Linked DNA regions of Homo sapiens. The protein of the gene in region 7 interacts with the protein of the main gene of each other region in a biochemical or structural test. Each region holds a gene or a part of one and is shown on either strand. Other genes may lie near its edges.

Evidence for each region.
Region 1: the proteins of SLCO1C1 (region 7) and SNTB2 interact in a test that uses a peptide from one of them, tested with the Homo sapiens proteins (one large-scale study listed by IntAct).
Region 2: the proteins of SLCO1C1 (region 7) and PREX2 interact in a test that uses a peptide from one of them, tested with the Homo sapiens proteins (one large-scale study listed by IntAct).
Region 3: the proteins of SLCO1C1 (region 7) and SYNPO2 interact in a test that uses a peptide from one of them, tested with the Homo sapiens proteins (one large-scale study listed by IntAct).
Region 4: the proteins of SLCO1C1 (region 7) and SHANK2 interact in a test that uses a peptide from one of them, tested with the Homo sapiens proteins (one large-scale study listed by IntAct).
Region 5: the proteins of SLCO1C1 (region 7) and SHROOM3 interact in a test that uses a peptide from one of them, tested with the Homo sapiens proteins (one large-scale study listed by IntAct).
Region 6: the proteins of SLCO1C1 (region 7) and MAST4 interact in a test that uses a peptide from one of them, tested with the Homo sapiens proteins (one large-scale study listed by IntAct).

Annotation. Positions count from the first base shown.
Region 1 is NC_000016.10:69,295,164-69,298,663, reverse strand, and holds part of SNTB2 (beta-2-syntrophin), read right to left. Parts: intron 1-3,500. UniProt on the Homo sapiens protein: Adapter protein that binds to and probably organizes the subcellular localization of a variety of membrane proteins. May link various receptors to the actin cytoskeleton and the dystrophin glycoprotein complex.
Region 2 is NC_000008.11:67,950,812-67,954,845, reverse strand, and holds the start of PREX2 (phosphatidylinositol 3,4,5-trisphosphate-dependent Rac exchanger 2 protein), read right to left. Parts: upstream 2,801-4,034; 5' UTR 2,452-2,800; coding exon 2,311-2,451; intron 1-2,310. UniProt on the Homo sapiens protein: Functions as a RAC1 guanine nucleotide exchange factor (GEF), activating Rac proteins by exchanging bound GDP for free GTP.
Region 3 is NC_000004.12:119,024,854-119,028,353, forward strand, and holds part of SYNPO2 (synaptopodin-2), read left to right. Parts: intron 1-1,773; coding exon 1,774-2,585; intron 2,586-3,500. UniProt on the Homo sapiens protein: Has an actin-binding and actin-bundling activity. Can induce the formation of F-actin networks in an isoform-specific manner.
Region 4 is NC_000011.10:71,242,578-71,246,077, forward strand, and holds part of SHANK2 (SH3 and multiple ankyrin repeat domains protein 2), read right to left. Parts: intron 952-3,500; exon of another isoform or gene 819-951; intron 1-818. UniProt on the Homo sapiens protein: Seems to be an adapter protein in the postsynaptic density (PSD) of excitatory synapses that interconnects receptors of the postsynaptic membrane including NMDA-type and metabotropic glutamate receptors, and the actin-based cytoskeleton.
Region 5 is NC_000004.12:76,739,229-76,742,728, reverse strand, and holds part of SHROOM3 (protein Shroom3), read right to left. Parts: coding exon 803-3,500; intron 1-802. UniProt on the Homo sapiens protein: Controls cell shape changes in the neuroepithelium during neural tube closure. Induces apical constriction in epithelial cells by promoting the apical accumulation of F-actin and myosin II, and probably by bundling stress fibers.
Region 6 is NC_000005.10:67,141,893-67,145,392, reverse strand, and holds part of MAST4 (microtubule-associated serine/threonine-protein kinase 4), read right to left. Parts: intron 3,279-3,500; coding exon 3,156-3,278; intron 2,973-3,155; coding exon 2,860-2,972; intron 725-2,859; coding exon 597-724; intron 250-596; coding exon 14-249; intron 1-13.
Region 7 is NC_000012.12:20,698,332-20,701,831, reverse strand, and holds part of SLCO1C1 (solute carrier organic anion transporter family member 1C1), read right to left. Parts: intron 2,281-3,500; 5' UTR 2,256-2,280; coding exon 2,127-2,255; intron 515-2,126; coding exon 373-514; intron 1-372. UniProt on the Homo sapiens protein: Mediates the Na(+)-independent high affinity transport of organic anions such as the thyroid hormones L-thyroxine (T4), L-thyroxine sulfate (T4S), and 3,3',5'-triiodo-L-thyronine (reverse T3, rT3) at the plasma membrane.

The DNA.
Region 1 (3,500 bases), on a different chromosome or scaffold from region 7:
TGTAATCCCAGCTACTTGGGAGGCTGAGGCAGGATAACTGCTTGCACCTGGGAGGCAGAGGTTGCAGTGAGATGAAATCACGCCACTGCACTCCAGCCTGGGTGACAAGAGCGAGACACTGTCTCAAAAAAAAAAAAAAAAAAAAAAAAAAGAATTGGTAAAACTGGACAGGCAGGGAGGAAGAGGCAGAAGGACTGAACTGGGCAAGAAGGACCAACCAAAGGAGCAAAGGCAGAGAGGCCTTTCAGGAGCCGTGACATGGTTTGGTTGGCATTTGGGATGAAGATAAAGATTATGTTCATCAAAGTTAAAGGCTATACTCAGCAAAAGTCACAGTCAACGCTATCAAAGATACAATTCAAAGGACACCTCTGAATTGACAGGATACAAACAATTTTGGTCATCAAGACTGGCAAATGCCCCAGGTGTGGTGGGTCATGCTTACAATCCCAGCACTCTGGGAGGCTAAGGCAGGAGGCAGGAGGATCACTTGAGGCCAGGCGCTAGAGAACAGCCTGGGTAACATGGCAAGATCTCATTTCTATAAAAATAAAAAATGTATCTGGGCATGGTGGTGTGTGCCTATAGTCCCAGCTACTCAGGAGGCTGGGGTGGGAGGATCACTTGCGTCCAGGAGTTCAAGGCTGCAGTGAGCTATGATCATGCCACTGCACTCTAGCCTGGGTGACAGAGCAATGTCTAAACAATTTTAAAAAGAGAGATTTAGAGATTCTTTTTTTTGTTTGTTTTGAGATGGAATCTCCTTCTGTCACCCAGGCTGGGGTGCAGTGGCGTGATCTCGGTTCATTGCAACCTCACCCTCCTGGGCTCAAGCAATTCTTCTGCCTCAGCCTGCTGAGTAGCTGGGATTACAGATGTACACCACCACGCCCGGCTAATTTTTTTGCATTTTTAGTAGAGACAGGGTTTCACCACGTTGGCCAGGTTGGTCTTGAACTCCTGACTGCAAGGGATCCATCCACCTCGGCCTCCCAAAGTGTGGGGATTATAGGCGTGAGCCATTGCACATGGCTTCTTTTTTTTTTTGGAGACAGAGTCTCGCTCTGTCTCCCAGGCTGGTGCAGTGGCGTGATCTTGGCTCACTGCAACCTCTGCCTCCCAGGTTGAAGCAATTCTCCCGCCTCAACCTCCTGAGTAGCTGGGATTACAGGAGCGTGCCACCACACTAGGCCAATTTATGTATTTTTAGTAGAGACAGGGTTTCACCATGTTGGTCAGGCTGGTCTCAAACTCCTGACCTTGTGATCTGCCCGCCTTGGCCTCCCAAAGTGCTGGGATTATAGGCATGAGCCACCGTGCCCGGCCTCCTTTTTTTTTTTTTTTTTTTTTTTTTTTTGAGATAGAATCTTGCTGTGTCACCTAGACTGGAGTGCACTGGCGCAATCTCAGCTGACTGCAACCTCTGCCTCCCGGGTTCAAGCAATTCTCATGCCTTAGCCTCCTGAGTAGCTGGGATTACAGGCGGGCACCACCACACCCAGCTAATTTTTTGTATTTTTTAGTAGAGACGGGGTTTTGCCATCTTGCCCAGGCTGGTCTTGAACTCCTGAGCTCAGGCAACCCACTTGCCTCGGTCTCCCAAAGTGCTGGGATTACAGGTGTGAGGCACGGCACCTGGCCTGAGATTTTTTTTTTTTTTTGAGATAAGAGTCTCACTCTGTCATGCAGGCTGGAGGGCAATGGCGCAACCTCGGCTCCCTGCAACCTCCACCTCCCAAATGATTCTTATGCCTCAGCCTCCCGAGTAGCTGGGATTACAGGTGTTTACCACCACACTCAGGTAATTCTTGTAGTTTTAGTAGAGACAGGGATTTCACTATGTTGGCCAGGCTGGTCTCAAACTCCTGACCTCACGTGATCTGCCCACCTTGGGCTCCCAAAGTGCTTGGCCCCTGAGATTTCTTTTTTCTTTTTTTTTTTTTTGAGACAGAGTCTCTCTGTCGGCCAGGCTGCACTGCAGTGGCATGATCTCGGCTCACTGCAACCTCCGTCTCCTGGGCTCAAGCAATTCTCCTGCCTCAGCCTCCCGAGTAGCTGGGATTACAGGCATGTGCCACCAGGCCTGGCTGATTTTTTGTATTTTTAGTAGAGACAGGGTTTCACCATGTTGGCCAGGCTGGTCTCAAACTCCTGACCTCAGGTAATCCACCCGCCTCGGCCTCCCAAAGTACTGGGATTACAGGCATGAGCCACCGCGACCGGCCTGAGATTTCTTAAATGTTCTGTTTTGGATTGTTTCCCCTGGAGAAGGAAAGAATGGAAAGCAAATGTGACTGTGTGTGATTCTGTGTGTGTGTGTCAAACTTAATGTATTTAGGTCTAGATATTGAGCTTGTTTTAGTTTAAAAAAAATTTTTTTTTTGAGACGGAGTTTCACTCTTGTCACCCAGGCTGGAGTGTAATGGCGTGATCTTAGCTCACCACAACCTCTGCCTCCTGGGTTCAAGCAATTCTCCTGCCTCAGCCTCCCAAGTAGCTGGGATTAAGGCCTGCGCCACCACGCCTGGCTAATTTTTTGTATTTTTAGTAGAGATGGGGTTTCTCCATGTTGGTCAGGCTGGTCTCGAACTCCCGACCTCAGGTGATCCACCCGCCTCGGCCTCCTAAAATGCTGGGATTACAGGCATGAGCCACTACACCCGGCCATAGTTTAAAATGTATAATTAATACCAGATTCTTCTGAATGAGACTGTGACCTGGTCATGTAAATGCTGTGCCAAATCGAACCAATTAAACAGTTTTTCTCTAAACATTGAGTACATCACACCACAGTGATGCAATGATGATTAAGTGCCTGACACCCCTTACCCTTTTAGGAGTAATGAACCAAAGGGAGATAGGGGAAATAAGCCTTTCATTCTGATTTAACAGCTATGTGTGTGTGTATGAGAAGTGGCTTTTTTTTTTTTTTCAGTATAAATTCCCCATTTAGTAAGAGGAGTGGCCCTTTTCTGACGGGATAGCATCTGGGACTTATTAATGGAGCTGTTGCAGGTGGCTCATTATGTCTTGGTTCACTTAGAATGCTTTTGGATGGCTATGTGTCCACTATGCACTCCAATTTATAGATAAGTCAGTAAAAAATTCAGTATGTTGGCTGGGCGCGGTGGCTCACGCCTGTAATCCCAGCACTTTGGGAGGCCAAGGCGGGTGGATCACAAGGTCAGGAGTTCGACACCAGCCTGGCCAATATGGTGAAACCCTGTCTCTACTAAAAATACAAAAATTAGCCGGGAGTGGTGGCAGACGCCTGTAGTCCCAGCTACTCGGGAGGCTGAGGCAGGAGAATTCCTTGAACCTGGGAGGCAGAGGTTGTAGTGAGCAGAGATCAAGATCGGGCCACTGTACTCCAGCCTGGCAGACAGAGCAATACTTTGTCTCAAAAAAAAAAAAAAAAAAAAAAAAAAAAAAATTCAGTATGTTGATTTTGTTTAACAGGGTTGTTACCAGAAATAGAAAAAGACACACAATAGCAGCAC
Region 2 (4,034 bases), on a different chromosome or scaffold from region 7:
TATTTATAGGGCAGTTAAGTAAAAATATGTTCTTAGTAGAACTAAAAATATGTTTTCTACCTCTTCTTCCTCTTCCTAATAAAGATTAGTCATCCTTCATCCATGTTAATGGCTTAAAGCAATAATAGAAATGATTAATGACTAATCTAACAAATATTTAATTTGACTTAGGAGTAAACTATCAATTTTTGGCAACAAATTTACCACTCGACTTATTTAATACTATGGCTAACTTTTAAAAATAACTTCTATTGCTTGTTTCCATCTCTGATCATTCCCTTAGGATAGGTTCCTAGAAGAGGAATTACCAGGCCAAAGGGTTTGCATAGATTAAAAGCTCTTGGTACATATTAGCATAGTCTAATATCAAAACCAGAGTGACTACATCAACTTCAGGTAACCAAGAAAACTCCATGGGGAGTAAATGTTGCTATAAATAACACCCTAAAAAGAAAATCTAATAATCTATTATAAATAGATCTTAGGCTTTGTAAGCCAGAGTAAACTTTTATTTAGGATGGCATTCAGACTAATTAGTGCATTTGTGCATATAAACATAAACAGGCACAAATGATGCACAAAGAAAATGAAAAGTGGAAGAGCCCATAAATTCTGAAAGAGATAAAAAGAAATCATGAAATGATGTTCTCCTTATAAAAGGGGAAAATTTATTTTATACTTTCCACACTTTCTTACCTAACTCTATATACTAACAGTAAGTTTTCTGTTGTAATGATCAGGTTTAAGATTAGAAGAAAAACTGATATTTTAAATAAAGATCAACAAATTGGTTTTTAATATAATTAGATTAACTGTCTCTGCAAATTAGCATTCTGCACAGTACTTTGTTCACAGATCTTCAGAAAGAGTAATTATGTAAGAAATGACTCAGATTCTTCAAAAGACAAAGAACTTTGTTACCAAAAAAGTTTCATGAAAGCCAAATTTAAAGCTATTAAAAATCAAATCTTAAAAACATACTTTTTTGACAATCTTTGTTACAAGGAAGTATATAATAATTCTATAAACCACCAGTTACCAGGATATTCTCAAATACCTGTATATTTGCAGAGAATGTGGCCCCTGGAAGTCAAGTATATTGATTTTGAGAAGTCAACCATAACGCAGCCTGTACATTTTACATCACTTGAGACATTTTTCTTTCCTTCTTGCCACAGCCAAGAAGTGAATTTTATCTGTCATGATTATAAGCAGAAAGTTGACAGATTTCAGAACACTAAGCAGGAAGTTTGGCACCTGAAATATTTTCCTTCAGACCAAGGGGGCATGGAATTGGTTGTTGGAAGGAGAAGGATTTGGATGAGATCACAAAAACTAAAGCTCCTGGTTCTTTGAATGATGCTCTCCCAGGAATCTGGGTGGAAAGAAGCCAAGGCTCAAATTCTTTGTCTTTTCAGCAATGAATAGGAAAAATTCAACTTTTGAGTGTTATCTCAGCAGTTACTTTCACTCAGTTTTGCCCCTTCGGCCCTAAAATGAATGAGACGTTTTCAAAGCAGATGGCAGTGAGTCAAGCAGAAACGTGGAATATAAGTACATCCCCACTTCCACGAAGTCCCGAAGCTTGATTACAGCACTCTCATGGGCCATGTAAACAGGGGACCAGAAACTGAGCAGAAGACAGATTTAAGCCGGGGCGGGGGGCGGGGGGGAGGGAATTGTAAGACTAGGACAGGGTGAGCGCCACATGTGGCTTTAATATCCAACAGCTGCTAGAGATCATCACCCCGCTGCTCTCTCTGTACCCCTACACCAGAATCCTCTGTCTCAAAGACCATAACTAAAGCGGCCACTGCCATGTTATCTGAGTAACGAACTCAAGCTCGAGCACATTCAAGGATTTTTTTTAACTTAGTGTACCTGGATGTAGCCGACTGGACCTTTAATCACAAAACCAAAGCTTTAAAACAAAGTCTCCAGGAAAGAACAAGAAGGAAAATCAATTACACAGTGCACTTGAGCAGACTGGGGAGGCGGGTAAAAGAAAAGTGAGGGAAGATAGGGCAGCCGGGATTCCCTGGACTGGAGCTCTCTTCTCTAGAGCTAACTTTTCAGACCTGGAGGTCTCCAAGGCCCCCGCAACTCAGTGAGTCTCGGGGCACCAACAAATCCCCGCGGGGGTCACCGCGCCCGCGAACGCAGAGTCCACACGTGGATTCCCGCGCCTGTGATGCCCCGACCCGTCCCGGGTCCCCGCACAGACAATGCCGCGCGTCCTTCCCGCAGCCACTCCGGGACCCGCGCCCCGCGCCGCCCGGACGTCCCCCTGCGTCTGCCGGGGACACTCACCGACACCAGGAACTCCAGCGTGCCCACATAGTCCCGCTCGGTCTTCTGGAGCTCGCTGAGCACGCACACGCGCAGGCGAAGCTGCTTCTCCAGGTCCTTGGCGCTCTCGGCGCGGCTGTCTCCGCGGCTGTCCTCGCTCATGGTCGGCGGCGGTGCGCAGCGCGGCGCTGCCCGCCGTGCTGAGCGCTGACCCGCGCGCCCGCTGCTGCCCGGCCCCCGGCGGCGAGAATGGAAAGTTGCCGCCTCCGCCAACTCCGAGGAGAGACAGAAGACTTTACATGCTGGGGAGAGGCTGGGCGCAGGGAGAGGAGGGGATCGGGCTGAAATCCCGGCGCGGGGGGCGCGGGGCTCTGCAGAGGAAACTCCTGGGAGTGGGGGCTCCGGCCAGGCCCTGCGCGCCCGGCCCCGCTGCTCTGGCCTCACACGGCCGGGGCTGGAGGGGAAGCGGCTTCGGCAGCCACAGCAGTGACTTGGACATTAATCAAAAGCTTTGTATCCATGTGACTCCGACCCTTTACCCTTCGCCAAATCTCAGGAAAAAGGAAACACAACCCTGGGGAAGTACTGCGTACTGGCTAATCACACACACGCGCGCGCGCGCACACACACACACACACGCACACACACACACACACACACACACAGCAGCACTTGATATGGAACTCACAGGAGGTTCCCAATCCCAGGGACACACACTCCAAGGCGCAGCTCGAGGGTTACTCCTAAGCCTCCGCTATTGTTTAACTTTAATGTGTTTCGTACAAATCCTGAAAGCAAAGAAACAAGTCCCCACGGTTACATAACTGGATGGGAACAAAAACAACCACGGTATTGACCCTCCCTCTTTGAAAAGAAACACATTGATTTTTTGTTTCATTCAGGCACAAAACAGGTTTGCTTTTAAAACCCTCCAACTGAGAATAGTTCACAGGGCAGACACCCTCCAGTCTGAGCTTGGAAAGTCAATTAGCATAATAAATGAAGACACTATGGGAAAATGACAGCCTCTGCCCATGCAATAAACCCCAGATAAAATAAGCATCACCCTTGTACTGTGCTGTTTTCCATGTCTACAACTTTTTTCAACATCAAGATAGTATGTAAATCCATTGAGAGGCGAGGGTATTTGTGCCAGTTTTGTTTCTAAGAGCTGCTGTGATTTAAGACGGTGTCACTAATTGAAAAGATAAAGCTGTTGTTGAATGCTCATCAGAAGATAGAAAGCTAGATAGATAACGGAAATAATCTTAGATTTTTGAAGATAGACACACAGAACATTCTTGATTTTAAAGTTAAAGTTTATTGCCTTTTCTCACTTGGAAACTAAGCCTTAAATATTTCCAATACATTTAACAAACAAAACAATTTATATATTTTTTTGAATTGGTATTATACACATATATTTTCCACAGATCAACTTCAGTCTAAAACTAATGGCATTTAAATAAACTGAAGAGTGAATAGAGTTGTTGCAAGAAAGTGGTATGTTAATTTGTTGCAGTCACTGAAAGCATTAGCAAAACTCTAAAACATAAAGATGCTTTTCACTATATTTACATTAAAATAATTACCTATTGGTTTTCCAGATGATGTCTTTCCAGAGCATAGTGTGACCATTCCCCTCTGTAACCACACAAAGAAGGATTGTACTTTCTTTGTATATTAAAGATAAAATTTTCGAATGATGTACACAAAGCTGATGGGCAAGATGTGATTTTCCTCTT
Region 3 (3,500 bases), on a different chromosome or scaffold from region 7:
TCAGTAGAGGACAAGTGTTTTTACTTTTCCTGAACTATTGCCCAGAGATAGCTCAGTAAGACTATTTTAAAATAACTCCTTTAACATTCCATCTCTATTATCTTGAATGTTCTTAAAATAAGATTTTAAAAATTCTATAATTGTGACACATAAATTGTGGACTTGATGAATACCTATGTAGACTGATGGGAAATGAATGTTTTAAGGCATAAAGCTTTATTCGCTCATGCTTTTATGATATTTACTCATGTCTATTTATTTTACTTCAGCTGCTGATAAATGTTAATATTTATCTGGCCATTTGTCTGTATTGGTCTACAAGGCTGGCATGAATTGAAACTATTCTCTTCTCAGCTTCACAATTGATTGCTAACGTTATTCAAAGTGATTTAATCTACTTCCATCCCAAGGCCTTCCTAAATTAAAACTCTCTGACCTTTTGGTACCCTCAAATTCAGTTTAACAATGTATTTAACATTTTCTACATAATAATGATCTAATTTGCTAACATCATGCTTTTTTAATACGATATTATAATGTTGTATAAATACTGTATTACAGGGAAGCTTTTCCAATTACTTGCGTATAGAGAAAGGTGCATTTTGTTTAACTGTTAGTTTGTTTTCATTTTGTTTAGTTTTGTTTTGCCAAATGCAGTTGAAAGCAAAGGTAGGAGTAAGTATTTTGAGCATTGGTCGGAAATTGCACTACCACATAAATTCTAAGGTAAATTCCTTTGAGTAGAATCCAAGTAGAAGCTCACGCCCTTCAGCTGACGTGCCTGCATGAGTCATAACTGTCTTTTAAGGAAGGAGGAAAGGGGCAAAGATAATTATGCTGCTTCCAAAATTAAAAAAAATACAAATATAAAAAATGAAGGCATTTCCTACAGCTGTTCTGTGAATAATACCTCTAAAAACATTTACAGTTTAAATTAGAGTTTCAGAAAGAAGTTATTTAACTCTTAAACTGACATTGCTTCTTCTCAGAAACCCAAATTTGCACAGACAACTGGGAAGATCAAAATCAAAGAGCTGTGGTGTACAGCTCTAGGCTCCTTAGCTGAGAGATAAAGGAACAGTTTGACTTCAGATATCCTAAAAAGAAAATGCTCCAAGAAACAGATCCAAATAGAAGAAAGGGAGACATCTCAGATTATAAATACTCCATGACTTAATGATTCATTGCAGCACGGAAAGGATTTCTCTTTACGCAAGAGTACTGGGCTGGGTCCACTTATTACGAAACACATGCTCACTGGGGCTTAAAAAACAGCTTCTATTTCATTCCTTTCAAGAAAGCACAGCCTCTAAAAGGACTAGTTGAGTTATCTGTAAGTTAAGATTGATCTGAAGGTGCTGGATATGTTTATGTGACTTCATAATGTCTAGACCAAAACTTAGTCAATAAGACATTGAAATGCTTTGTCACATTCTAGCAAACTCATTATAAGAGATACCCAGATTCCAAGTACTTACAGATAAACGGGATCCATGTAGTTTTTTAAAAATAAAAGCTGAATTTAGGATGGATTCAGGTTTCATAATCTTGTGTAAGAGTTTCTTTGTGCTTTTAAAAAAGTTTATTTGGTATCTCTTTAAGTAATAATATGAACATGTTGCCACCTTCTGTTTTCAAATATGTTGCAACTGACATTTAGAAGAAAATATTTTGACTATATCACATATTAGACATCACAAAAGTGTCAGGAAGTTCTTTGGCAGATGTAACATAGTCTGATTTAAGTGTCTGGAATGATTTTTCTGTGTGCAGACCATCCAGTGGAATAAGTGAGGCTTTGATATCTGAAAATGAAAACAAAAACCTCGAGCATCTCACACATGGGGGTTATGTGGAAAGTACCACCCTGCAGATTCGACCGGCCACAAAGACCCAGTGCACAGAATTCTTCCTCGCCCCTGTCAAGACTGAAGTTCCCCTAGCTGAGAACCAAAGAAGTGGTCCCGACTGTGCAGGCAGCTTGAAAGAAGAAACAGGCCCGAGCTACCAAAGGGCTCCCCAAATGCCTGACTCCCAAAGAGGACGCGTGGCAGAAGAGCTGATCTTAAGGGAGAAGGTAGAAGCGGTACAGCCTGGGCCTGTGGTTGAGCTGCAACTGTCCCTTTCACAGGAGAGACATAAGGGCGCTAGTGGCCCTTTAGTGGCTCTCCCGGGAGCTGAAAAATCTAAGTCTCCTGACCCAGACCCTAACTTGTCACATGACAGGATTGTCCACATAAATTCGATCCCTACTAATGAGAAAGCAGACCCTTTCCTGAGGTCCAGCAAGATAATCCAGATCTCCAGTGGCAGAGAGTTGAGAGTGATCCAGGAAAGTGAAGCAGGAGATGCGGGACTGCCCCGGGTGGAAGTGATCCTCGACTGCTCTGACAGGCAGAAGACAGAAGGGTGCAGGCTTCAGGCAGGAAAGGAGTGTGTGGATTCTCCAGTGGAAGGAGGGCAGTCAGAAGCACCTCCTTCTCTGGTATCCTTTGCCGTCTCATCAGAAGGCACAGAGCAGGGAGAAGATCCACGCTCGGAAAAAGATCACAGCAGACCTCACAAGCACCGAGCGCGGCATGCACGTAAGTTCTGCCTGGGCTTTCAGAAGGGGCTTGGGAGTTGGGGGCATTTTGCTGCTTCTTTGCTTGCATGAGTTTTTCAGCAAGATTTTTCTTATGTTTCTCATTGGCTTAAAGAAATATTTAATTAATGCACAAAATCACAAATGTGAAATTGTGGAGAATACCAATTTCTAAATAGGAAGCAATAAGTCCGAACTTCATATAGATTTAAACATTTTTCATGAATTTCTTTTTATCCCCAAAGGCACAGGAACTGTTAAAGAAAATAATATTGTCAATGTGCCTGTTCATTTTGTTTCAGACAGTTGAAATAGTTCATGTTAAAATAGCATAAGAAAGCACTTGAAGTCATGTGGACTCAGTTTAAATGTCAAAAACTGTTGAGTCTGCTACTGAGAGGTGTCTTTAAAATAAAAGCTCTACCATTGATATCAAAAGCAGATCCTTGTTTTGAAAAAAAATCATTGTGCAGCTTGATGATGCTTGCAGAAGTGAGTTTGACAGACAAGGACATGTGTATACTGAGCAGTTACATGATCCTCTCCGTTGTGTAAGTCTTCATTTGACTGCAAAGTGTTTCATCTACCTTCTAGACACAGAAGTCAGTCTCCAGGGCCATGTGGAGGCATTTAAATGTCTCCAAACATAAAATATATTTAAATTCAGTGCTTTGTATGGCATTTTGTTTTACCCAGGGGAGAGAAGACAGAAAGGAGAATTGGGATAAGAATTGCAGTTAGGTGTTAGGATTTCTATTGTTTTATTTCACGTTTATTTTTGTTTGTTTTTTTTTTTTTTTTTACTAATTTTGGAATTTTATTTGAGGATGTAAAGGCTGACAGGCAAAGGCACTTGACTGTATATATGATACACAATGGCAATGAATTCGGTTATTCAAAGTAGGATATTAAGTCT
Region 4 (3,500 bases), on a different chromosome or scaffold from region 7:
CCACCAGCAAGCTCTCCTTTCCTCCCACACTACATCACTGCTTATTTATGATCTCCTTTAATTATTGTTTGCTCCCCTGGCGAGGATGTCGACCCTACAAGGGCAGAAATATTTGTCTGTCTGGTTCACTGTTGTATCCCAGAGTCTAGAGCAGCCTAGCAGACACCTGCAGCACATGCCACAAAAGACGGCAGAATACTCATTCTTCTCAAGGGCACGTGGAACATTCTCCAGGAGAGGCCTCATGCCCGGCTATAAAACAGCCTCATTAAACATCAGCAGGACTGAAATTATACAAATAATGTTCTCCAACCACAATAGAATGAAATTCGAAATTTATTTTACAAATGCACAAATATGTGGAAATTAAACAGACATCTAAATAGCCAATGGGTCAGAGAATAAACCACGGGGAAATTGGAAAACACTTTGAAACGAGTGAAAAAGAAGACAAAACACATCAAAACTTATGGAATACAACTAAAGCAGTACTTAAAGGAAATTCAGATCTGTAAATGTCTATGTTAAAAAGAAGAAAAATCTCAAATCAATAACCAAAACCTTCCACCTTGTGAGAGTCAGAAAAAGAACGGGAAACTGAAACTGAGCTAGCAGAAGGAAGGAAATAATAAAGGTTAGGGCTGAAGTTAATGAAATCTAAGCTAGAAAAGCAATAAAGAAAATCAATGAAACTACAAGTTGGTTATTTGAAAAGATCAACGAAATTTACAAACCTGAGCTGAAATGATCAAGAAAAGAAGGGAAGACTCAAATTACCAAACTCAGGAATGAAAGAAGGGACATTATTACCAACTTACAGAATTAAAAGGAGTCAGGCCGGGCGTGGTGGCTGATGCCTGTAATCCCAGAACTTTGGGAGGCTGAGGCGGGCGGATCACGAGGTCAGGAGATCAAGACCATCCTGGCTAGCACGGTGAAACCCCGTCTCTACTAAAAATACAAAAAAATTAGTTGGGCCTGGTGGTGGGCGCCTGTAGTGCCAGCTACTCGGGAGGCTGAGTCAAGAGAATGGTGTAAGCCCGGGAGGCGGAGCTTGCAGTGAGCTGAGATCACGCCACTGCACTCCAGCCTAGGCAACAGAGCAAGACTCTGTCTCAAAAAAATAATAACAATAATAATAATGAGACGGTGCTACAAACAACTACATAGCAACCACATTAGAGAAACTCACATGAAGTGGACACATTTCTGGTGGGACACAAACTAACAAACTTGACTCAAGAAGAAACAGAAAATCTAAAAAGACCTATGACAAGCAGAGATCCAATCAATAATTTTAAAAGTTTTCACAAAGAAAAGCCTAGGCCCAGATGGCTTTATTGGTGAATTCTACCAAACATTTAAAGAAGAATGAAGGCCAATTTTGCATAAACTTTTCAGAAAAAAATGGAAGACAATGCTTCCCAAGTCATCTTATGAGGCCAGTATTACTCTGATACCAAAACCAGACTTCAAAAGAAAACTATAGGCTTCCTTGGGCAGCCAGACACCTACAAAGTCCTCTCCACTCTCCTGTCTACACTTGCAAGCCTGCCTCACTCTATAAATTGGCCAGGCTGCTCTCTCAGAGTCTCCTAAACTGCCTTAGGCTCTGCCAGCCTCCTTGACCCCACAGCCTGGAAGGTGCCTCTGCATGCTCCCACCATCCTAGACCCCACAATCAGAGGGCCTGCCCCTGGGGTCGGAACCAGCTGGTGGCTGTCTGAAGCCCCTGACTAAACTCCACAGACATATCCTGAACGACAAGAAAAGGTACATGCATCATTCAAAGCACCCTTTGGACCACATGGCACAGCCAGCTTTCAAACGGGACCCATGCACTGACAAGGCGGATCACACGCTCCTCCCAGAGGCTCTCAGCGTGCAGCCCCGGGAACCAGCCTATTCGAGAGATCTATGAAGTCAAACCATTCTCATCATAACACTGAGATGGGAGCTGCTTTTTCAAGCTCATCCTCTCCCAAGTGCACAACGGAAGCTACAAAACTTGTGATATTGCAACAAGCTGACTGCAGGAGCAGATACGGGAACCCAGCTGTCTTCCATTAAACCTCACAGCAAAAAGACCACAAAAATGTTAAACAATGCCACTCTTCTCACCAAGTGTTTTTTTGTTGTTGTTGAGATGGACTGTCACTCTGTTGCCCAGGCTAGAGTGCAGTGGGGCAATCTTGGCTCACTGCAACCTCCGCCTGCCGGGTTCAAGTGATCTCTTGTGCCTTAGCCTTCTGAGTAGCTGGGACTACAAGTGTGCCCCACTGTGCCTGGCTAATTTTTGTATTTTTAGTGGAGATGGGGTTTCACCATTTTGGCCAGGCTGGTCTCGAACTCCTGACCTCAAGTGATCCACCCGTCTCGGCCTCCCAAAGTGCTGGGGTTACAGGTGTGAGCCACTGCACTATTTTTTTTCCTCACTCTGTCACCCAGGCTAGAGTACAGTGGCGTGATCACGGCTCACTGCAACATCGACCTCTCAGGCTCAGGTAATCCTCCCACCTCAGCTTCCTGAGTAGCTGGGACCACAGGTGCGTGCCACTACACCTGGCTAATTTTTTATTTTTTGTAGAGATGGGGTCTCATTATATTGCCTAGGCTGGTCTCAAATTCCTGGCCTCAAGCAATCCTCCTGCCTCAGCCTCCCAAAGTGCTGGGATTACAGGCCTGAGCCACCTCGACCGGCCTCACCAAGTGTTTTTCTTATTTTGAAAATAGTTGTTATCCATAAAAACACATTATTTATACCAACATGTCATGAGTTTATTACTATTTTTAAATGCATTAATAATTAGATATTTGTAAATTCTAATAGCGTAAATAACAATAGATTCGTGCTCATACATAAAAAGCTTCTGGGTCCTTCAAAATGCTAAGAGAGCAAAAAAGATTCCTTAAGCTAGAAGTCTGACAACCACTGTGCTACCTCATCTGCTTTACCTGAAAGTGAACAGAAAAATAAACTGGTGTGCCACCCAGGAGGCAATCTGGAGGCCGGGGAAGCGACCGGTGCCTTCTTCTGCACGGTGGAGTGGGCAGCCGCCAGGTGTGGATCCCAGCTGGGCCACACGACCTTCGGCAAGTTCAGCCACTGGAGCTGAATGACCCTCGAGGGAGGGAAAGTCCAGAACCAAGACGAGGGGCAGTAGCGACGCCATCGGGTCAGTATCTTCCCCTGCCAAAGTCCCCTGGTCCATGCTTGGGGCCACTGTAGGACCTTGAAATGCAGACAGGAGCAAGGCGTGGTCCCTTTCCTGGGGGACCTGTCCACCTCGTGAGGAGGGGTCAGACAGGAGCCCGGCTGGCCCAGGGGCAAATGCCTCTAGTTTGCAGGCCCCTGTACGGGAAGAGGGGAGTGGAGCAGATTCTTCAAATCCCAGGGACATTTGTGCGGGGTGGCAGGAAAAACATGGACAGGAACGGCTGAGCCCTATGCTCTCAGGGGTACAAATGAGGCCACAGAAGCATCCCCCTCCACTCCCCAG
Region 5 (3,500 bases), on a different chromosome or scaffold from region 7:
AGGATAGGCTAAGAATTAGGGAAATTAACAGGCTCCTAGGAGTCAGAATGCTCAGCTTCTATTCCCAGCACTGCTTAAAATTTTCAGGGGAAAGTACTTTATAATCCTTGCAGCATTTGGTGCCTTTATTAGAAAATCCTTTTATGTGAGATTTTGAGTTTCTTATTTTCTCTCCTCACCAGGATAATGCACAGAAAGAGCTGAGGTGGGAGTCCGAGAGACAGGGGTCTGACATGTATAATATACTCTGCTGCACAGGATTATCATGAGGGTTAAATGAAATAATAAATGTAGATTACACTTAGCTCAGGACCTGCCACACACTTAGCTGAGGGCCAGGAATTCAATAACCAATGACTATCAATGTCAATCATTCTAGCTATTTTGTAGATGCAAAGTCCAATAGAAACAGAAAGGGTGCAAAGCTAAAACTTTTAAAATACTCAGACCCAGACTCTAATCCATTAAAAAAAAAAAAGCAAAAAACAAAAAAGATAATCCCTAATTTTTCTTAACCTTGCATTTTTCCATTGAGAGGTGGTGACTTCCTAAAATGGAGGTAGACAGATAGATAGAGAATCTGTATAACAACATACGTAATCTAGATACCTATATCTTTATAAGGAAACCAGGTAAGGGACACTTGAGAAACTCAACTCATGAAAACAAATGCTACTTTTCTGTAATCACAAGGAAAACTGAACTGGGAGAGCGGGTGAGAGTGTGGGGGGTTGGGGAGCCCCACTAAAGCTTCTAGGGAGGAAGGGACAGTTCGAGGCCAGGACTTGCTGGTTGCACGTACCTGGCGCTTGTCTGCGGTGGCGGGAGATGACCTGGACCTCACATGGACAGGGCCCGCAAGGACGTCCGAGCGTTCCAGCAGGTCCTCGGCCGACATGGACTTCCCGGCCCTGGCCCCCCAGGAGGATGGCTCCCTGGGGGTCTCATCCCCTCTCTGGGTGCCCCTTGTTCCACCGTTTGCTCCGCTAAGCAGGTCCCCGCGTCGCCGTTCCCCGAGGCGGCGGCCACCGGCGAAGGAGCTGCTGCGATCTCGGGGAGCCTGCTGGGTTTCTGCAACTGTGGCCGGCAGGAGCGTGGCCTCCCTGCGGGGCTGCAGGCTGGGCTCCCGCAGTGAGCTCAAGCTGGAGGCCGAGGCGAGGCCGGAGCCTTCGAGCGCCGCGGGGCCGGGCTGGAGGTAGGCACTCTGGGCGCGCTCACGCAGTGGCCCGGGCTCCTGGAGGCTGCAGCCGGCGGCGGAGGTAGGCCGCTTGCCGGTCTTGCGCTGGATGTAGTCCGCCAGGGCGCTCTGCTGGAACTGCTTCAGCTCGGGCCCCGACAGGCTGAGCGTGGAGCAGGCCTTGCCATCGCGCTCGAAGAGACGGCGCCGGTCGGCCACGCTGCTCTCCGGGAAACGCATCCCATTTCTCTGCGGGCCCAGGGGTGCCGGTTCGGCCTCCTCCACGATCCCCACCTCGTTCATCTTCTCGGGCTCCGAGTAGGAGCGCTTCTTCTGCTCGGGAGTCAGGCGCCGGCGAGCACCTCTCCGGGCGGCAGGGGGCACGGGCCTGGCCAGGTCGCCCTCAGCAGGGGTCACGCTGTGCCGCTCCCGGGGCGTGTGCGGGGAGGCGGAGGCCGACGCCTCGGGGCTCCGCAGCCCCACGTGGGCCGAGGAAGGCCGTGGCCGCCAGGACCTCGACGCCACGGGCGCCCCCAGCTCCAGGTCTCGACGTCGAAAGGAGGTGGCCCCCAAGACACGGGACTGTGCGTCCTTGATGCTGTTCCGGTAGGCGCGGCTGAAGGGGGCATCCAGCAGGGGCGATTCGGGCGAGCCGGGCCTGTCCCGCCACTCGGGCTCCCTCTCTGGCTCGCTGGAGAGCTGGAAGGTGCTCTGGCTACGGAGGAGCCGAGCGTCCGGCCTCTGGGGGCCACGGCCGCTGTCCGACGCTCCTCCGCTCAGCTGCTGACCGCAGGGCTGCCGGGAAGCCTCTTCCAACTTCAGCTCCCCGTTTTTGAAGTGCTGCTCCCCGTTGCCTAGGGGTTCAGCTGACTCAGAGAAACGAATGTGTGCTTTTGTCTCCTCGAAGTCATTCCCAGAAGTACTGGAAGTTGAGACGGTCCTGTGGGGCCTATAGTTATGGCCAAAACCAGAGCCGCCCACACTCGGTCTCTGGCTCCCTTGCTCTCGCTGCTCGAATTTGGAGACCTTCTCCAGCACCGAGCAGTGGGGCTTCCCGTACTGAAAGCCCTGAAGAGCCGAGGCGCTGCCTGGGCCGGGCCCCCTCCGGCCCAGACTGGATGTGTGCGGGTGCGAGGGGGCAGGCGGCTCTTCGGGACTTGGGTCTGTGCTGTTGAAAGAAGCCGAGGCACCGGTCCTCCCCTCGGGCCGCGGGTAGGAAACCTGCCGGTCCAGATGGCTCCCGAGGTCAGGAGCGGCTTTCCTCCCAGGGTCTTCTGCCTTGGTGTTGACTGCACAGGTGGGCCTGCCCCCGGGGTAACCCTCCTGGGTTCCCCGGCCTAGCTCCAGGCTGCTGTGTCTTCTCAGACTCTCAGGAATGTTCTGGAGAGATGAGAAGGCTGACTTGGTCTTGCCAAAGTTGCCTGACAGGCTCTGGCCTAGGCCTTCTCTCTCCAGCCTCCTCCAGAGGTTGGCATTGTGGTCTTCCTGGAAATCGCCCTCCCAGGGCTCTGAGAGCCTGGAAGATCTCTTGTCTTCACCCGCTTGCCAGGCCTGAGCCTGAGGGCATTTGAGGCTGTGGGGATGAGAAGATGGTTTGTTACTGTGGGTGCTCTTTCTCTCATTGGAATGTGGGCTGTTGCCTTGGGGAGGTGTGAGATGTCTCTTCAGGGAGGCATCCTCCTCATTTTCAGGCACTGAACAGAAATGGACTTTGGAGGGGACATACTTGGCTGTAGCTTCTGGTTTCTTCTCCACTGGGGACAGCAAGTCATGTTCTAAGGGCTGGCAGAAGGCAAACCCAGGCCTGCCAGATCCATTCTGGTTCCCATTCTCATCAATGGTAGCCATCTTGTTGCATGCTCCCTGAGGGGCTATGTATCCACTCTCCTTGGCCAGTGCAGGGTAGAGCATACCGTTGCTACTCACAGAAGGCTGAGGCACCTGGGCAAAGTGTGGCTCCAGGGAAGGTACCGGGTAGATGCTGGTCGGCAGCAGAGGTTGGCCAGGTTGGGCCTTCTGGGTATAGTTATGCTTGGGCTTCACTGGGGGGCTGTTCTCTGGACTCTTCTCCAGCACAGTATGCAGCTGCTCCTCTATGAATGGAGACTTCAGGGAGCCTAAAGAGTTTGCCTGAGGCCGGCAGAGCCGTTTCTGATCAAGGCTAGACCAGGAGCTGGGCCGCTCACGGTGCCGAAATGCTGCGTAACTGTCACTCCGAGCTGGAGGCAGGGGTGCACCCACCTTAGGAGGAAGGTTGTCCGTGGCAGTCTCCAAGGAACTGGGGCACTGCTGGCTCCAGGATGGGGGTGGCACTCCCTTGCCC
Region 6 (3,500 bases), on a different chromosome or scaffold from region 7:
GCCCGGGGCTTACCTGACAGGGTGGAGCTGCTGATGGTGCTGGCTGGGGTGGTGACCTCAGGCTCCTCCTGGGCACACTCTTCAGGAGGAAGGGCTGGCTTTCCTGGCTCCTCATGGGGGTCTCCAGGGCAGGAGGCAGCTTCATCTTGCTCTCCCTCTGTTGAAATAGCCAGTTTGGGAAGTAGGCCAGAACTGAGTTTATGTCTGTTGCTTTCAGTATCTGAAGAGTTGGATGTTGATAGCTGTTGCCTTAATTAAAAGCAAAAACAAAGTCATATATACATACTAGAAAACTGTGTTAAAGGTGAATTTTGGAAGAAACCAGGTGAAAATCGGACTTGGATAAGCCTAACCAAGAGATGTCTAGTGCAATGGTTCTTAATGTGTGGTACCCACAGCAGCAACATCTGCATAATCTAGATACTTGTCAGAAATGCACATTTTCAGGCCCTACCCTAGATCTACTGGATGAGAAACTCTGGAAGTGGGAGATCTGTGTTTTAACAAGCCCCCCAGGTATTCTGATGCTCACTAAAGTTTAAGAAACTCTGCTCTAGTAGCTACTGCTTATATTACTTAAGAGGCATTTCACATACATTTCAGAATATTCTGAACTCCAGCTCAGTGTTTCTGTGGATGGCAAGGTGGTGCTTTTGGTTTTGTCCACAGAGTCTTCCTTCTCTTCTGCTGAATTCTGAGTGATTCGATCTATACTGCTGAAAACCTGGAAGGCAAATAATTGGTGCTTATTAATATCTACTAAAAAGAGTTTGTCAGAAAAACACTCCAAGTCTTGGGAGAAAAACCTGAGAGGATAACTAAATTCTGAACTAATATTGTGTATTCAGAAAGTACTTTCCAGTGTTGTTAACCAGAATCCAGAGAGGAAGGGTCAGGGTGAGTGAGTGTGTGTGTGTGTGTGTGTGTGTGTGTGTACATATATACGAATAGGGAGCTATGAATTCATCATCCTCTCATCATATCTTGTTGCGGACTTTGTATCTGCAAACAAAATCCACAGATGCAGTGGAGTTTCTAGGCCTTGGGATCAATGCACATCTTGATTACTTTTTAACCATGAAGTCAACTGGAAAAAGAAAATAACAGAGAAACAGATTTAATGGCCACCAGTCAGGGGTGGGAAGAAGAAAAATGAATTGGAATTGAGTGCAAACAGAAGAATAAATTATCTGTTTCAAGACTGGGTGGTGGTGTGGCAAGGATGCAGTACATATTCCGTTATAAGAGCCAGAGGTATTTGTTTCGCTTACAAATCACATCTATAGACAGGCAGTTTCCTATGTTGGTGCCGGGGTTCCTGAAGGGGATCGGAGCTCAGGTAAGCCCAAGGTCTCAGCTATCTGTGAATCTCTGTTGTCTCATAAGAGAGAAGGTAAAATGGGGGTCTAAGAGCCTAGGGCAGGAAGCGCTCCCTACTGCCCTGCTCAGACACTTGCTGCTCTCATGGGAATGGTCCTCAGGCCTCCTATAATCTACTAGGAATAGCAGGAAAGTGGCTACAGAAAAGGAGATGGTGGGAAAATGAAATACCCACCAAGGCAAAGAAGGAAGCAGTGTTTAGGGGTTGGCATTGTTGTCTTTGATGGCCCAGAGAACAGTCCTGGTCTGAGTCCACACTTAGCAAAGCTTCTGTCCTGGCTCTAGGACAGACTGGCTACCACCTTCTCCAGGGAAATCCTTACCTCGATGCCATTCCCATACACAGGAGGGTAGTGCTGGCCAATTTGCAGGTGCATCTAGGTAATCATTTAGAAAAAGCTACGGAGCACTTTAAAATCACTAAATGTTATAGAAAAGCTAAACAATAATCATGCAAAATGCCATGGCAACAGAAAATATATAGCTACTGAAAATAGCAAAAGGGAGGTAGGGTGCCCTCAGGTTGATTTCCGTTTTTCCTAGGGCCTTGTTCTGTCTCAGTACTATCAGTTTTCTTTGTTTTGATTAATTGTTTTTTTTAACTTTTACTGTACTGGTAAAAAGGCATCTTTCTCAAGCATCAATTATCTAAATGATTCTAGCTTGGCTTCCTACTGCCTTTTCAATATGGCTTATAATTTCTGTTTATTGGTTACAAGACTTTTTTTTTTTTTTGGCTTTTTTTTTCCTTTTTGTGGAGAACGGGGTCTCACTATATTGCCCGGGCTGGTCTTGAACTGCTGGGCTTACGCTATCTTCTTGCCTCTGCCTCTCTAAGTGCTGAGATTAGAGGCGTGAGCCACTATGCCTGGCAGTTATGAGACTTTACAATCCTACAGTCAACTGTCCGCAGGTATCTTTGCTTATGTCAAGGACTGAGCCTTCTCCTTTTGTTGTACTCTGTGTAATCCCTCGGAGATGACTCTGTACACAGTGAAGCTCGCGCTCTTCATCCTGAGTTGAAAGCAATGAGTGATACCTCTGCAGCCTGGCATTGAGCCAGGTGAGAGACGTTCAAGGCAAGGTCATCATATAAGTAGCAGTCACACACTCCAAAAACAAGACTGTGGGTGCAAGGCTATGCCTCTAAGAAAACAATATCTTAATTTGTGGAGAGAGAAATATATTGGTGCCGGGGTTCCTGAAGGGGATCAGAGCTCAGGTAAGCCCAAGGTCTCAGCTATCTGAATCTCTGTTGTCTCACAGGAAAGAGAGAAGGTAAAATGGCAGTCTAAAGGCCTAGGGGATAGGGACAGACTATAAGTTGAGGAGGTCACTTTTCTTCAACAAAAGGAAGTTTAAGCATAGGAGACCTCAAACCCTGGAAAACGGTAAGTGTCCAGCTGTTCGGGGATACTATCTGGCCAGCGGGAGATCCTCCCAGAGAGACTCTGTATGTTTATGCCACATTTCACTTACTTTTGAAAACCTGTGTGAACATGAAGAAAACTGCCTTATTTCCACATTAAAGTCTTCATCATTTGTGTCATCTTCTTCCTCCGTTTCCATATGATGATACTTCTCAGACCGAGCTGCAGTGAAATGTTTGGGAACAGGTCCAATTACTCAGATTTTCAACATTTAGATATTTTAATTATGATTTTCTGGATCAACATTATGTTTAAGAACTCAGAGATATGAAAAGGTTCAAAAGCAAAGATAATTATTTATCGAGTAAAGGCCAAACAATGTTTTATGTCAGATAAAGCACATACTATCAAAATAACTTGTGTCATCCTCAGATTCCAGTTGGGGAATAAATTCTGCCTTCTGTCTCAGCAAACTGTTCCAGTCTAAAGAACGGAAGAATCGATGCTGTTTGACTTCATATGCACCACCTGGAAGGGGGCAGGTAGAGACAGAGAGGAAAGTGTTAAACTATCCCCACTAAGCAAAGGCAAACATCAGTTTTTAACAACAATTTTGAGAACATATCAGCAAAGAAATACAGACATGAAAATCATACTTTTTCATTCTACAACCAAAGCCCCACAAGTTTTTCTGATAATTTATCAGTAGGAGATTTGATGTTGCTAACAGCAGTTGCTATGGCACTGTTT
Region 7 (3,500 bases):
CTCTAAAATTGAATCATAGTGCTCCCAGGGTGTATTGTTCTTCTGTAAAGATACTTCTACATATTTATAACTCAAAATACCAATTAGCATCTCACCCTTTCCTCCAAGAAAGTCACTTACTCTGATGTAGAACTCTGAATTGTGTGAACCATACAATACCAAACACCTGGGGAGAAAAATTTACTGTTGATTGCTCTGAGAAAATTGCCTCTCCTGTAGAATAAGATCATGGTAAATTCTGTCCAAAAAAAAAAAAAAAGATTTTATGAATAGAGTCTGATCCCAGCAGACAATAGAATGCAGAAGGTGTTCTTTAGCCACACCTAGAAGATCTTGGGCTTAAAATTAAAGTCAGGCATCTGTAATACCTACCAATTTCAAAACTACCATCAATAACTCCCACCAGTGAAGAAGGGATATCAAACCTTCTCTCTATCTGAGTGATGGTGCTCTTCAGATAGCCTTCTGCCAATGCTTTGGCAAAGTAAACAAAAGACAAGGCACACAAGAACACCTGGAAAATATGACAGGTCACACTTAGTCTGACTCCAGCTTGACACACAATTGGAAACTAAGTAAATAGACAAACAAATACAAAACAAACAACAAAGAACAATGTATAATATCAACTTTATTATCACTGAAACTTTAATTCAAACACTGTTCGAGGTTTCCATCAGCCTTAAGCACTGTAAGTTTTCAACAGTTCAAATTCTCTTGGAATTTAAAATATATATTTGGTTTTTATGCGAAATGTGTATTGAATTATCTTTTGTCTTCTTCCACTCTGCTCCAGAGGGGCACTCAAAGGAGTCTTACATTGAAGAGTCAGTGTATGGTGAGACATTCATTGGTAAGAAAGTAAATGAAACCATAAGCCAAACACTTGACATCCTATAACAAGTCCAGCACTTGGGATTATGTATTTCACAGGGTGGTGCATGCACCAGCCGGGAACATAATGTACAGACTGAAAAAGTGCAACTATTATTCCTTGTGTTTATGTTTATACTTATTAAATTCATAGTCAAATATTTTTCTCAATGGAAAACATGTCTTTGATATCTAGCTTATATATTTTGATAGACATGGGTCTGTGATAGAACATTCATAGGGAAGGTTAGCATTTATATGAAAAAAGCAGAGATTTGTTGAGTGAATATTTGTATAAAGAAAGAATAGGAGCACACAAAGCATCCCTTAAGAAACAACTATTCTCGGGGGATTGGGGGAGCGGGGAGGGACAGCATTAGGAGATATACCTAATGTAAATGACGAGTTAACGGGTGCAGCACACCAACATGGCACATGTATACGTATGTAACAAACCTGCACGTGTGCACATGTACCCTAGAACTTAAAGTATAATAATTAAAAAATAATTAAAAAAAAGAAACTTCTATCACTAAATAGCAAAGAAAAATAGCATGATTTTAACAATGGGCAAATAATCTAAATAGACATTACTTAAAAGAAGGCATGGCCAACAGGTATATGAAAAAGGTGCTCAACATCACTAGTCATTATGGAGATGCAAATAAAAATCTTTATGACATATCACTTCACATCTGTTGGCTATAACAAAAAATAAAAACTGGTTAGAATGTAAAGAAAAGGGAATCTTTGTACATGGTTAGTGGTTACATAAGTTGATGTAGTCTCTTTGGAAAATATAATAGTATGGAGGTTCCTCAAAAAACTAAAAACTATTGTTTGATACAACAATCCTAAAAAAAAAAAAAAGCAACTCTTCTCCCTACTCTGTAACATTATTCCCATTTTTATTTGCAAAATGGGAGTAATGTGATGTTTCACAAATTAAATGTTATATCTGTGCTTGGCTTAATATCTGGCACATGGCAGAAGTTCAATAAATACTAGTTTCTACTATTTCTCTCTTTTCTGTTTGGGGGGGCATTTAAATGAGCCCAGGAAAGTAATTTAACCCACATGGTCAGGTAGAGATTGCTTGCACCGCCTGGCAAGGTGTGGTTTTAGTAAATTGCATCTAAGATCTTTTTTTTTTTTTAAAGGAGAAAACAATTCTCATTCTAACTTCATTATATAGATGATATCTGGACAGAAAACTAAGAGCATCAACACTATTTACTTCTTGGTTGCTCTACCTTTAGTTCACCACAGCATGGTTGCTTTTCTTCTGAGGAGGGATATTCTGTTTTAAAAGAAGGCCTTCCAACAGGTTGCACTGAAGTTTTGCAGAACAACTGGATATTTTCTTTGGATGAAGTGTCCATTATAAACACATTCCTTGACTCTGATCTGTCAAAGTTAGTTTTTAAAGTAAAAATAAATAAATACTACGCAATTTATTAAATTTTTTTATTCAACAGTATACCACAATTCTATAGACGCAATTTAAAGTGAATCTACCTTTTGTTGTCACAGTAAGTTGGCAAATGTTTTCAATTAAAATCAACCAGGATATCTGATTAACTAATCCTGCTATTGGAACTCTGTAGCCAGCATTCTTTCTCAATCTGCCCAGTTTAAGCCTCATTATGGCAAAGAATAAATTTAAGTGTTGCCTTTGGAATAAATAATGAGGCAGAATTTTGCTAACTTTGTGGTCTTGCCAGTTTAAACTAGGAGCAAGCAGGAAAGGAAGAAGAGGAATTCAACTATTTGAATATTGATTCATTAGGATAAAGTCTTTAAAGCCTTTAAATCTATCTTCTTAGCAAAACAAATAGAAGTTTTACATTCATTATAGGTCCCTGTACCACCTTATGATTCCTGTAGCACCCAATGTGAGCCTTAAAATATGACAAAAAAGAAGAGGTCCAATTTGTGTATTGTTTTTGTTTGATAAATAAGGGAGCAACATGATTTGTGCCTTAGATTTAATTCAGGTGAAAGAACAGTCTTTGATCAGCCTTAAAGTAAAAAAGACAGCCTTGCTTCCCATGCTCAATTTCCCACCGCCCCTCACAGGACAGGATCACACACTGAACCTATTTTCTCCCTGTTCACATCAATATTTACATATCCTGTGCCCCTACTTCTTTAGGATTCCACATGGCTCAGTGCCTGCCTGATAATCTAACCTAAATCAAGGAATTCAACAAACAAAGTATTTCTCAATCTCCCTAATATTATCAGATGACCCAATTGTACATTAATAGAGGACTTCTATATCCACATAATAGGAGTGGAATAATGTTATTCCTAAAGGAATAATGTTAGGAGTCAAATTTCATGTATTGTGGCAGAAATCTATTCTGACTGAGTATATCACCTTGACTTTATGCAATGCTTGTTTTGTGTTCACTAAACCTCATCCCTCACCATTTCAATTCATACTTTCTCAAACTGAAAAATCAAGTAATAGTATAAACGATTTGCTTTGTATTAATAATATGAAGTTAAAACATCAGAGGACTTCAACAATTTAAAAATTAAGTGGATTCCTCTAGGGAGTGGGAATTGACTAAAGGAAAGGATGAGACAAGGGTCTGGTTTCAAAAAAATTATTATTAGGC